Linked DNA regions of Homo sapiens: region 2 is reported to be linked to region 1. Evidence: microRNA targets listed by miRTarBase, many of them from high-throughput screens and not tested one by one. Region 1 holds a microRNA gene; the other region holds the end of a gene's coding sequence.

Region 1 (5,000 bases):
TGTCCCGTTCCACACGCAGTTCTACCCTGAAACCCACAGTCCCCGCCCCAGCCGGACTTTCCAGCAGCCTGGGTTCCCTCCTTGGAGAAAGCCAAGGAGGGAGTGGGGGAAGAAATTTCCACTTAAGGGAGTAAACCTGGGCTCCGATGAACCCTAGGGTCCTTCCTTGCCACTCTCCACCACTGGCCAGGAGCTCCTCCCGCCCTCTAGTGGTCACCGGGAGCCTTGCGGGGCTGGGCCGCGCAAGCTGAGGGGCCGCTCGGACCGGGCGGAGAGGAGTAAGGGCAGCGCTGCCTAAGTGAGGCAGCGAGAGCCCGCGAGAGGGAAGCAGGGCCCGGGAGAGAAGGGTCACTGCCGTGGCCAGGGAGGGAGGAACGCACAGCATGGTGGACGGCTGGGAGCTTTAGGAGGGGGCACTCCGGGACGCGTGGTGGTGGCGTCTGGAGGAAATGGAGCTAAGCGGGTGGGGTCCTGAGGTATGTGGAAGGGGCACCGAGGTATGTGGGAGAGGACGTTGGAACGTGGGCGGGGGAGTTGGACACGTTCTGTGTGGGCCGTTATGTACTTAAGAGGCAGATCGGGCGTGGCACGGTGGCTCACGCCCGTAATCCCAACACTTTGGAAGGCCGAGGCGAGTGGATCACAAGGTCAGGGGTTCAAGACCAGCCTGGCCAAGATGGTGAAACCTCGTCTCTACTAAAAACTACAAAAATTAGCCGAGCGTGGTGGCGGGCGCTGTAACCCCAGCTACTCAGGAGGCTGAGGCAGGAGAATCGCTTGAACCCGGGAGGCGGAGGTTGCAGTGAGCCGAGATCGCGCCATTGCACTCCAGCCTGGGCGACAGAGCAAGACTCCGTCTCAAAACAAAAAAGGGGGGGGCAGAGAGTAGGTGGGGTGACAGAATGGGATTTACGGACACAGAACTATCCTTTGGGGAGCAGAGTGGTATTGGGGACAGGTAGGCACGTAGCGGGGGGCAAAAGCACACGTGAGGTGCGTAATGCGCGACAGCCAAGAGGTGTGTGCGGCAGCAGTGCACGAGGGGAGGAAGCTATCCCAGGCCGCGGCAGCACGTGGAACTTGGGTCCCGCAGTCGCAGGCTGCGCTCTAGGCCGACGGAAGCAGTTCCGCCTGTATTCAGAAAACAGTTCTCAGCCCCAAAGACACAGGTTGGAAAGAACACTTTAAAAACACTTCGGCGAGGCACGGGATTGGAGCGCATCAGATCAGCAGGCGAGAGACCACAGCTCTCGCCCGCGCGCCGCGCGGCGCCCGAGGCGCAGCTTTGTGTGCGGCGAGACCCTGGGGCAGGCGCTGGGCGGGGTGGGGACATCTGACGTCAGCGCGCCCGGGAGCGCGGGCCGGGGAGGCGGGGAGCCCCCCAACTCGCAGGCCGGAGAAAACACGAGTAGCTAGGTGGGCGGCCCCAAACCTCAACTCCCGGCATTGCCAAGCAACAGCCATTCAGTTCGGTTGCTGGGACACGCGTCACCATGGCGACGGCTCCGCGCCGCGCAGTCTGAGTACTTAAAGAGCAAGCGCGCGCAACGCCCGGGCGTCGGAAAGCGGCCTTCTGGGACTCCGCAAACTCCCGTTCTCCCTCCCCCCTCCCCCTTGCCATTCCCTTTGCCTTCCGGGCGCCAAGTCTCTCTGGCCTCCAAGGTGAACCCAACTCCCCAGCGCGCCCCGGGTTCCCGGGTCGGGCCGGCTTCAGGCGGTGGGGAGCGGGATCCCGGGCCCCGGGCGGGCGGGAGGGACGGGACGCGGTGCAGTGTTGTTTTTTCCCCCGCCAATATTGCACTCGTCCCGGCCTCCGGCCCCCCCGGCCCCCCGGCCTCCCCGCTACCCCTAGCGGGGCAGCCCCCGCCCTCCTGGCTCTCCATCCCGGCGGATCTTTGATAGACTGGAGTGTCGCCGCTGCCACCGTGAGTAAGTGGGTCTGGGAGGACTTCGGGCATCCTCCCTCAGGCACCCTATCCTTCACTTAACTCCATCCAGCACCTCCCCCACCCGCATCCCCAAATCAGCCAAACTTCCCCTAGATCCCTAACTTCCACCCTCCCAGGCTTTCTCTTCTACTCGCCGATTCCTTCCACTTCCCCACCCTATCCCGGAAAATCCCTAAAATAAGCAGTTGCACTGGCTTAGAAAACAACCAAAACTTTATGGCAATGTGCTGTCATCTTTCCTGGGGTTAGTGCCTGAGTAATACCCCTTGAAAACTTCTCATCCCCTGAAGGGTGGGGTGACCACCCCTCTGGGACTGAACTCCTTTTGGGAGCCAGAGAAGGGTCTGTGGTTGGCTGAGGGGCTGTAGCTTAGACCTCAGGGTCTCCAGGATGGACCCCAAGGCCAAAGGGTCTAAAATTCTGAATTCTGAATCTGGTGGCCTCCTCCTCACACCCTTCCCTGGAGCAGCTGCCTCCGGAATGGCTCAAAGTCCTCAGGCACTGTGTCTGAAGAAGGGGAAATAAGTAAGGTCAGAGGATGTGGCTCTCCCACAAGGCATGAAGGATTAGGTTGATCTCAATCAGCCACCTCACCATTGCATCGATACTGGAGATTGGACCAAATTATGTTTTCTTGGGAGAAGCAGAATACACCAAGACGCCCCCCTCGCATGGATGTGTCAATGATCACCCCAGAATCCGCCACAAGCTGGGGTCCCTCATAGAGCTTCACCCTGTCCAGGATTCCAGGATAGGAGTATCCATTGGTGCTAGGGTGCCAGTGGGCACTGTGCCACCATGCCTGGGGCCTTGCTTTTCCCCAGCCCCCCTTGAGCTCACCAGGCCTGAGAGAGAAGGGAGGGAGGGAAAGGGAGGCAGGAAGGAGAGGGAAGGGGGGTGCTTTTCTCAGGCCTGGGGCCCCTAGCTCTTTGTCCAGCTCCTTTTGCATCTCAAAGCACCAGCCGCATTCCAAGCGAGGATTGGGTTGCCATGACAATAAGCACAATGGGCTGGGGGGTGAAGTCACCCGCTTCCCAGGCTCTAGTCCACCCCCTTTTATCCCCTGTCCTGGCACCCCACAGCCCCAGGCACCTTAAAGGGGAACCAACCCAGGTTCCTGGACTCTGGGCTCTTGGCCATGGAAAGTCCAGCCTCTAAGCAGACCCATTTCCCCTCCCTTCCTGTTCATCTCCACCAACTAGGGCTACTTGTTGGAGAGAAATGCAAAGTTGTGGACAAAGTGTTGAACCGAGGCCTGTGAAGTCAGGGCCTTGATTTTCTCTTCTGTAAATGATGATGCCTTCCAGGTCAGATGATCCCTATCCACGTTGATAAGACAGGTTCCAGGTCATACCAACTAAGGGACCAGATGTGATGTGCCCCTTCACAGATTGGCCTGGGTTTGGAGGCTTCTGGAGAACTGTAAAGGGCATCTAACCCAATGCCCTCATTTTACAGACGGGAAAATGGGTCATGGAGGAGTGACTTCACCAACATCACTCATAGGTGCTTGTGTCCGTGGTGAGAAGGGTGATGGAGAGAAGTGGCTGCAGTTCCCACCCATGGAGAGGTCACTGGTGAATCCCAGCTAAAGAGGAAGGACAGGCCCGGCCTGAGTCCCACAGGTGGGCTCAGCCCCTCTCCTTACCGAATGTAGCCAACTTGAGGCCGGTGCAGAAGCTGCCAGCGATAGGAGGTCTTGTCCCGCCAGCCCACATTTCGTGGGTCTGTCCACAGCAGTCGTACCTGATCAGGGGTGTGGCCAGTATGCCACAGGGCATTTCGGAGGTGCTCACCTGGGCCAGACACTGATGTCACTGCCTAGGAGACATTGGCAAAGACAGTGGGTCAACTGCAGAACTGGAGTGAGGGGAGACAACAGGTCGGTAAGTGCAGGTGGGAAAGGGATTCAAGGCGGTCATGAAAATGCCCTGGGGCCCCAGAGAGCCGGCCTCCAAGCCAGATGTCTGGGTAAGAGGGTTCCCAGTCAAGCAGTGGGGGAGGCCCTGGGGCTGCAGAGGAGAGCTTTGGGAAAGGGCCCTGGGTTGCGGAATCTGAGCAGCTGGGGACCTTGAGCTGCAGCCCGGGCTGGGCAACCGCCCGGAAGGGTGTAGCCTGCCAGTAGGTCTGCTCGGTCTGCTTCCACATGACTACGTAGAAGCGGCCACTGTCTTGATAACTGAAGAGAAAGCCTGCGTAGTCATCATCAGTCACTGTGTTCACATGGAAGGTGCCTTCAAAGTCCACACCATTGAAGGCCGTGTATCCTGGGGTGGGGGTGGGATAAAGGTCAGGGGCAGCAAAGCTACTGGCGGCCCATCATGGGGTAAAGTTGGGAAGGGATGCCTGCTATGTATGTGGCCAGCTTGTGCCACTGCCTTCTCTCTCGCCACTTTGCCCATTCTCCCTGTCTGTTTCCTCCCCTACCCTCTGCCCCTATAGGATTCCTCCATTTGGAAGTGATTGAACTGCATATCCCTTACATACCAACTGCCAAGCCAGGGTCACTGTTCATGGTCTGAACGATTTCCATGCCCTGGGGTTGTATAGTAAAGAAAAAGCTGTGATGCAGGTGTGCTATCCCTCCCAGGCCCCCCGTCCCAGTAGCCCTGTCTGATAGCACCTGCCCAGCCCACTGCCCCGAGTTACCTGGTTGAGCACAACCCAGTTTGGGTCAATCTGAGCATCACCCTCAGGATCCAGGACGACGGTCTGATAGGCCCGAAAATCCGTAAGCGTTACCTCTGCACTTTCAGGACACACATCCAGGGGGTCGACCACAGCATCATTGTCAAAGTCATCCTCACACACATCACCAACGCCATTGCCTGGGCAGAGTGAGGCTGGGTGCTCAGGAAGGCCCTGGCCACTGCCATTAGGCAACAATACCATCTGTTGGGCCTGCATTCCTGACATCTTTCCCCACCTTGCCCTTCCTCACTTCCCAACAGGGCTTGCTGCCTCCACCTGGGCAAAGGCAACACCAGTCTAACGTGCTCTGGGTCCGCAGGCTTACCATCTGAGTCCTTCTGATTGGGATTGGGTACCAGG
Region 2 (5,070 bases), not on the chromosome of region 1:
CCCCAGCACCCCGGCCCCCTCAGGACCTCATCGGCCTGCGACTGGCCCAGGAGAAGGCCTTAAAGCGGCAGCTGGAGGAGGAACAGAAGCTGAAGCCGGGAGGAGTGGGAGCCCCCTCCTCTTCCTCCCCCTCTCCCTCTCCGTCGGCCCGGCCAGGCCCGCCCCCGTCTGAGGAAGCCATGGATTTCCGGGAGGAGGGGCCTGAGTGCGAGACCCCGGGCATCTTCATCAGCATGGATGACGACTCGGGGCTGACCGAGGCCGCGCTGTTGGACTCTAGTCTCGAGGGCCCCCTACCCAAGGTAGGGAGAGCAGCCTCCGCTGCGAAGGAAGAAGCCGGATCTGGGCCGGGGTGAAGGTGGGGGAGGAGGGGCCATCAGGGGGCAGGGCCTGAAGGGGAGCGTGGAGGTGACCGCGCCCTCCACCCGGCTGCCCTTTCCTTCCCCGGTCACCAGGAGACGGCAGCGGGCGGGCTGACCTTGAAGGAGGAGCGGAGCCCCCAGACCCTCGCACCTGTTGGAGAAGATGCTATGAAGACTCCCAGCCCGGCTGCCGAGGACGCCAGGGAACCCGAGGCCAAGGGGAACAGCTGACGGGGCTCGAGGGGGAAAGGGGGTGGGACAGGGACTCGGGGCTGGGGGACGGGGCGGGGCTTGACCTGCGGGTGCTTTGCCTTAAAAAGAAATAAAAGATGTGAACTTGGGCAAGTTACTGAAAAGAAAAAAAAAAAGGGATGGCGGGCCTGGGGCGCGGGTGCCGTCTCGAGTCTGGCGCGACGTCCACCGTGGGGCTGCGCGGGATCGGGAGTGCGCGCCCAGAGCCTGCGCGGAACCCACCCTGGCCCGCTCCCCGCGCCCTCCACGGGTAACGGCCCCCTCTCTCGGTGCTCAGAAACCGGCGGTGTCGACAGGTGGCTCTCGCTTGGCCTCCTTGTCTGCAAGCCTTTCTCCTAGAGATCTGTGCCTCCTGGCGAACCATGGGAGACCTGCCGCCCTACCCTGAGCGCCCTGCCCAGCAGCCTCCGGGCCGGAGGACTTCTCAGGCCTCCCAGAGGCGGCACAGTCGGGACCAAGCTCAGGCCCTGGCAGCGGACCCCGAGGAGAGGCAGCAGATACCTCCAGACGCCCAGCGAAACGCCCCTGGTTGGTCACAGAGGGGCAGCCTGTCCCAACAGGAGAACTTGCTGATGCCCCAGGTCTTCCAGGCTGAGGAAGCCCGGCTGGGTGGCATGGAGTACCCATCTGTGAACACGGGCTTTCCCTCAGAGTTCCAGCCTCAGCCTTACTCTGATGAAAGCAGGATGCAGGTCGCCGAGCTCACCACCAGCCTAATGCTGCAGCGGCTCCAGCAGGGCCAAAGCAGCCTGTTCCAGCAACTGGACCCCACCTTCCAGGAGCCCCCAGTCAACCCCTTGGGCCAGTTCAACCTCTACCAGACAGACCAGTTCTCTGAAGGTGCCCAGCACGGGCCTTACATAAGGGATGACCCTGCCCTTCAGTTCTTGCCCTCTGAGCTGGGCTTCCCACACTACAGTGCCCAGGTGCCTGAGCCCGAGCCTCTGGAGCTGGCCGTGCAGAACGCCAAGGCCTACCTGCTGCAGACCAGCATCAATTGCGACCTCAGCCTGTGAGCAGGGGCTAGGAGTGGGGCGGGTGGGGGACCCAGGCAGGGAGGGGCCCCACCCGAAGTGCCTGCCTCAGTCAGTCAGACAAGGGATCATCCCTCATGGAAAACCAGTGACTCTAATTCAGCTGAGTCGGAATCAATGCCAACAACAGCTAGCATTCACTTCCCAGACATGTGCTGGCACTGCACACACTCACCTAATTCTCACCGGAGATGAGCACATCAGCTCATCCTACTTTACAGAGGAGGAGACCGAGACACAGAGAAGTTGGGTCGCTTACCCAAAACTACACAGCTAGGATATGGCAGAGTCAGGATTCCAGAACACGTGATTTGGCTCCCCAAGCCCTCTTGCTTTTTTTTTCCCCCAGACATAGTCTCACCCTGTCACCCAGGCTGGAGCACAGTGGCGTGGTCTTGGCTTAGGGCAACCTCTCCTTCCCAAGTTCAAGTGATTCTTCTGCTTCAGCCTCCCGAGTAGTTGGGGTTACAGGCGCGCTCCACTTCACCCAGCTAATTTTTGTATTTTTAGTAGAGGCAAGATTTCACCATGTTGCCCAGGCTAGTCTCAAACTCGACCTCAAGTGATCCGCCCATCTCAGCCTCCCAAAGTGCTAGGATTGCAGGCATGAACCACCGTGCCCAGCCCTCCTGAGACCCTCTTATCCTGCAACTAAACCTCCCTGCCTGAGGAAGATACTTGCCAAAGCCACTTAGCTACAGTCACAAAACACTGCTCTCAGCCTCCATTAGATACCCAGGATGCTCTCATTCTAGGAGAGTGGACAAGAAACAGAAAAAGTGATAAACTGAAGCTAAGGACTCAGGTGAAAAATAAGGGAGGCTAAGAGGGCTAGGGAACACATGAAATAGTGGGGGTCCAACCAGGTGCGGTGGCTCACGCCTGTTATCCCAGCACTTGAGGAGGCCAAGACGGGCGGATCACCTGAGGTCAGGAGTTCGAGACCAGCCTTGCCAACATGGCGAAACCCTGTCTCTACTAAAAAATACAAAAATTATCAGGGCATGGTAGCATGGGCCTGTAATCCCAGCTCCTCGGGAGGTTGAGGCAGGAGAATCACTTGAACCCGGGCGGCAGAGGTTGCAGTGAGCCGAGATCGTGCCACTGCACTCCAGCCTGGGCAACAGAGCGAGACTCCATCTCAAAAAAATAAATTGTGTGGGTCAGTGAAGGCCTGTCCAAGGAGGTGACATTTGATTAGGGCCCTGAAGGAGTCGAGGGAGAGCATCTTGCAGATGACCGGAGGAAGAGTGAGCCAGGCAGAGCACACTGCAAATGCAAAGGCTCTGAGGCTTGCTGTTTTTGAGGAGCAGTAAGGAGGGGCTGGTGTGTCTGGAACCAAGGGAGGAAGAGGGAGAGCGGGAGAAATGAGGTTGATGAAGTAATGGTTCTTATTAAAGCACAAAGCTGGCCGTGTCCCTCCAATGCTCAGAACCTGCTATGGCTCCCCATTGCCCACAGGGGGAAGCTCAGACTCCTCACCACAACCTTCAAGGCTCCTGGCCTGAGACATATAAGGCCTTGCTCATGCCTGTGATCCCAGCACTTTGGGAGGCTGAGGCAGACAGATAACTCGAAGTCAGGAGTTCAAGACCAGCCTGGCCAACATGGCAAAACCCTGTCTCTACTAAAAATACAAAAAGTTAGCCAGGCGTGGTGGCACACGCCTGTGATCTCAGCTACTCGGGAGGCTGAGGCAGGAGAATCACTTGAACCGGGAGGCAGAGGCTGCAGTGAGCCAAGATCGTGCCAGTGCACTCCAGCCTGAGCAACAGAGCGAGACTCTGTCTCAAACAAACCAACAAACAAAAGGCCTTACGTGGTTCAGCCCCTGGCCGCTGACCAAACTTGATTTCTAGTCACTACCTGCTCCTTCCTCGGATCCTAGAATCTAGTCAGAATTAACCTCTGGCTATTCCCCAAGTGCCAGCTCTTCAGAGCTTCAGGCTCTCTTCCTGAGAAGCCCTAGCCAAAGTCTCACCTCTTCTTACCCTTCCCAACTTCCATGATGGCCCAACACCACACCCAAGACTGCCAACAAAACAGCTTCCGCAAAGCAAAAGGTGACACATACATGCTTGGAAATCAGACCAACTTGGTTTCAAAGGCTGACTGTGGCCGGGCCTGGTGGCTCACGCCTGTAATCCCAGCAGTTGGGGAGGCTGAGGCAGGCAGATCACTTGAGTCCAGGAGTTTGAGACCAGCCTGGGCAACATGGCAAAACCCCATCTCTACAAAAAGTACAAAAATTAGCCAGGCATGTTGGCACACGTGTAATCCCAGCTCTGGGGAGTCTGAGGTGGGAGAATCACTTGAACCCGGGAACCAGAGGTTGCAGTGAGCCAAGACCGAGCCACTGCACTCCAGCCTGAGTGACAAAGTGAGACCCTGTCTCAAAAAAAAAATACAAAAAATACAAATGTTGGCCAGGCACGGTGGTTCACACCTGTTAACCCAGCACTTTAGGAGGCCAAGACGGGCGGATCACCTGAGGTCAGGAGTTCGAGACCAGCCTGGCCAACATAGTGAAACCCCGTCTCTACTAAAAATACAAAAATTAGCCGGGGATGGTGGTGTGCACCTGTAGTCCCAGCTACTCAGGAGGCCGAGGCAGGAGAATCACTTGAACCCAGGAACCCAGGAGGCAGAGGTTGTGGTGAGCCGAAATCACACCACTGCACTCCAGCCTGGGCAACAAAGCAAAACTCTGTCTCTAATAATAATAATAATAATAATAATAATAATAATAATAATAATAATACAAATGTTGGCCAGGTGCGGTGGCTCACGCCTGTAATCCCAACACTTTGGGAGGCGGAAGAAGGTGGATCACCTGAGGTCAGGAGTTTGAGACCAGCCTGGCCACCATGGCGAAACCCTCTACAAAAAATACAAAAAAATTAGCGGGACATGGTGGTGCATGCCTGTAATCCCAGCTACTTGGGAGGCTGAGGCAGGAAAATCGCTTGAACCCAGGAGACAGAGACTGCAGCGAGCTGAGGTCGTGCCACTGCACTCCAGCCTGGGCAACACAGCGAGACCTCCTCTGAAAAATAAATTAAAAAAATAAAATTGCAAACCTTCTCCCATCCCTGGCACCCCCAGGCCCCATTCAGTACTATATGTGTCACCCTAAAAATTACCACCCCATGCCTGACACACTGTATATATTTTGCTCGTTTGATTAGTGTCTGTTTCCACCATAAGAATGTCGGCAAGGCGCGGTGGCTCACGCCTGTAATCCCAGCACTTTGGGAGGCTGAGGCGGGCAGATCACGAGGTCAGGAGTTCGAGACCAGCCTGACCAACATGGTGAAACCCTGTCTCTACTAAAAATCCAAAAAGTAACCAGGCGTGGTGGCGGGCGCCTATAATCCCAGCTACTCGGGAGGCTGAGGCAGGAGAATTATTTGAACCCGGGA

Evidence for each region. Region 1 holds the annotated microRNA hsa-miR-92b-3p (UAUUGCACUCGUCCCGGCCUCC, at 1,794-1,815, shown strand). A microRNA usually pairs through its seed, bases 2 to 8, with sites in the 3' UTR of a target mRNA and lowers its output. Matches are read on the target gene's strand: a 7mer-m8 pairs with bases 2 to 8, a 7mer-A1 pairs with bases 2 to 7 and ends in A, and an 8mer does both.
Region 2: miRTarBase lists SYMPK as a target of hsa-miR-92b-3p. The part of its 3' UTR that is shown has no 7-base or 8-base seed match.

What each region holds. Positions count from the first base shown.
Region 1 is chr1:155,193,444-155,198,443 of GRCh38, forward strand. MIR92B (microRNA 92b) reads left to right here and starts at 1,734; the gene lies at 1,734-1,829. It overlaps THBS3 (thrombospondin 3), which reads right to left. Exons shown (of 23, transcript NM_007112.5): 17 at 4,966-5,000; 18 at 4,599-4,777; 19 at 4,437-4,485; 20 at 4,020-4,216; 21 at 3,598-3,770; 22 at 2,544-2,683; 23 at 2,145-2,456. The coding sequence ends at 2,398. THBS3-AS1 (THBS3 antisense RNA 1) reads left to right here and starts at 1,554. Exons shown (of 6, transcript NR_183238.1): 1 at 1,554-1,929; 2 at 3,408-3,574; 3 at 4,901-5,000. RefSeq lists a silencer at 1,237-1,566 and enhancers at 2,723-3,558, 3,559-4,394.
Region 2 is chr19:45,811,083-45,816,152 of GRCh38, reverse strand. It overlaps SYMPK (symplekin scaffold protein), which reads left to right. Exons shown (of 27, transcript NM_004819.3): 26 at 1-302; 27 at 456-743. The coding sequence ends at 593. RSPH6A (radial spoke head 6 homolog A) reads left to right here and starts at 845. Exons shown (of 6, transcript NM_030785.4): 1 at 845-1,626. The coding sequence starts at 977. RefSeq lists an enhancer at 5,033-5,070.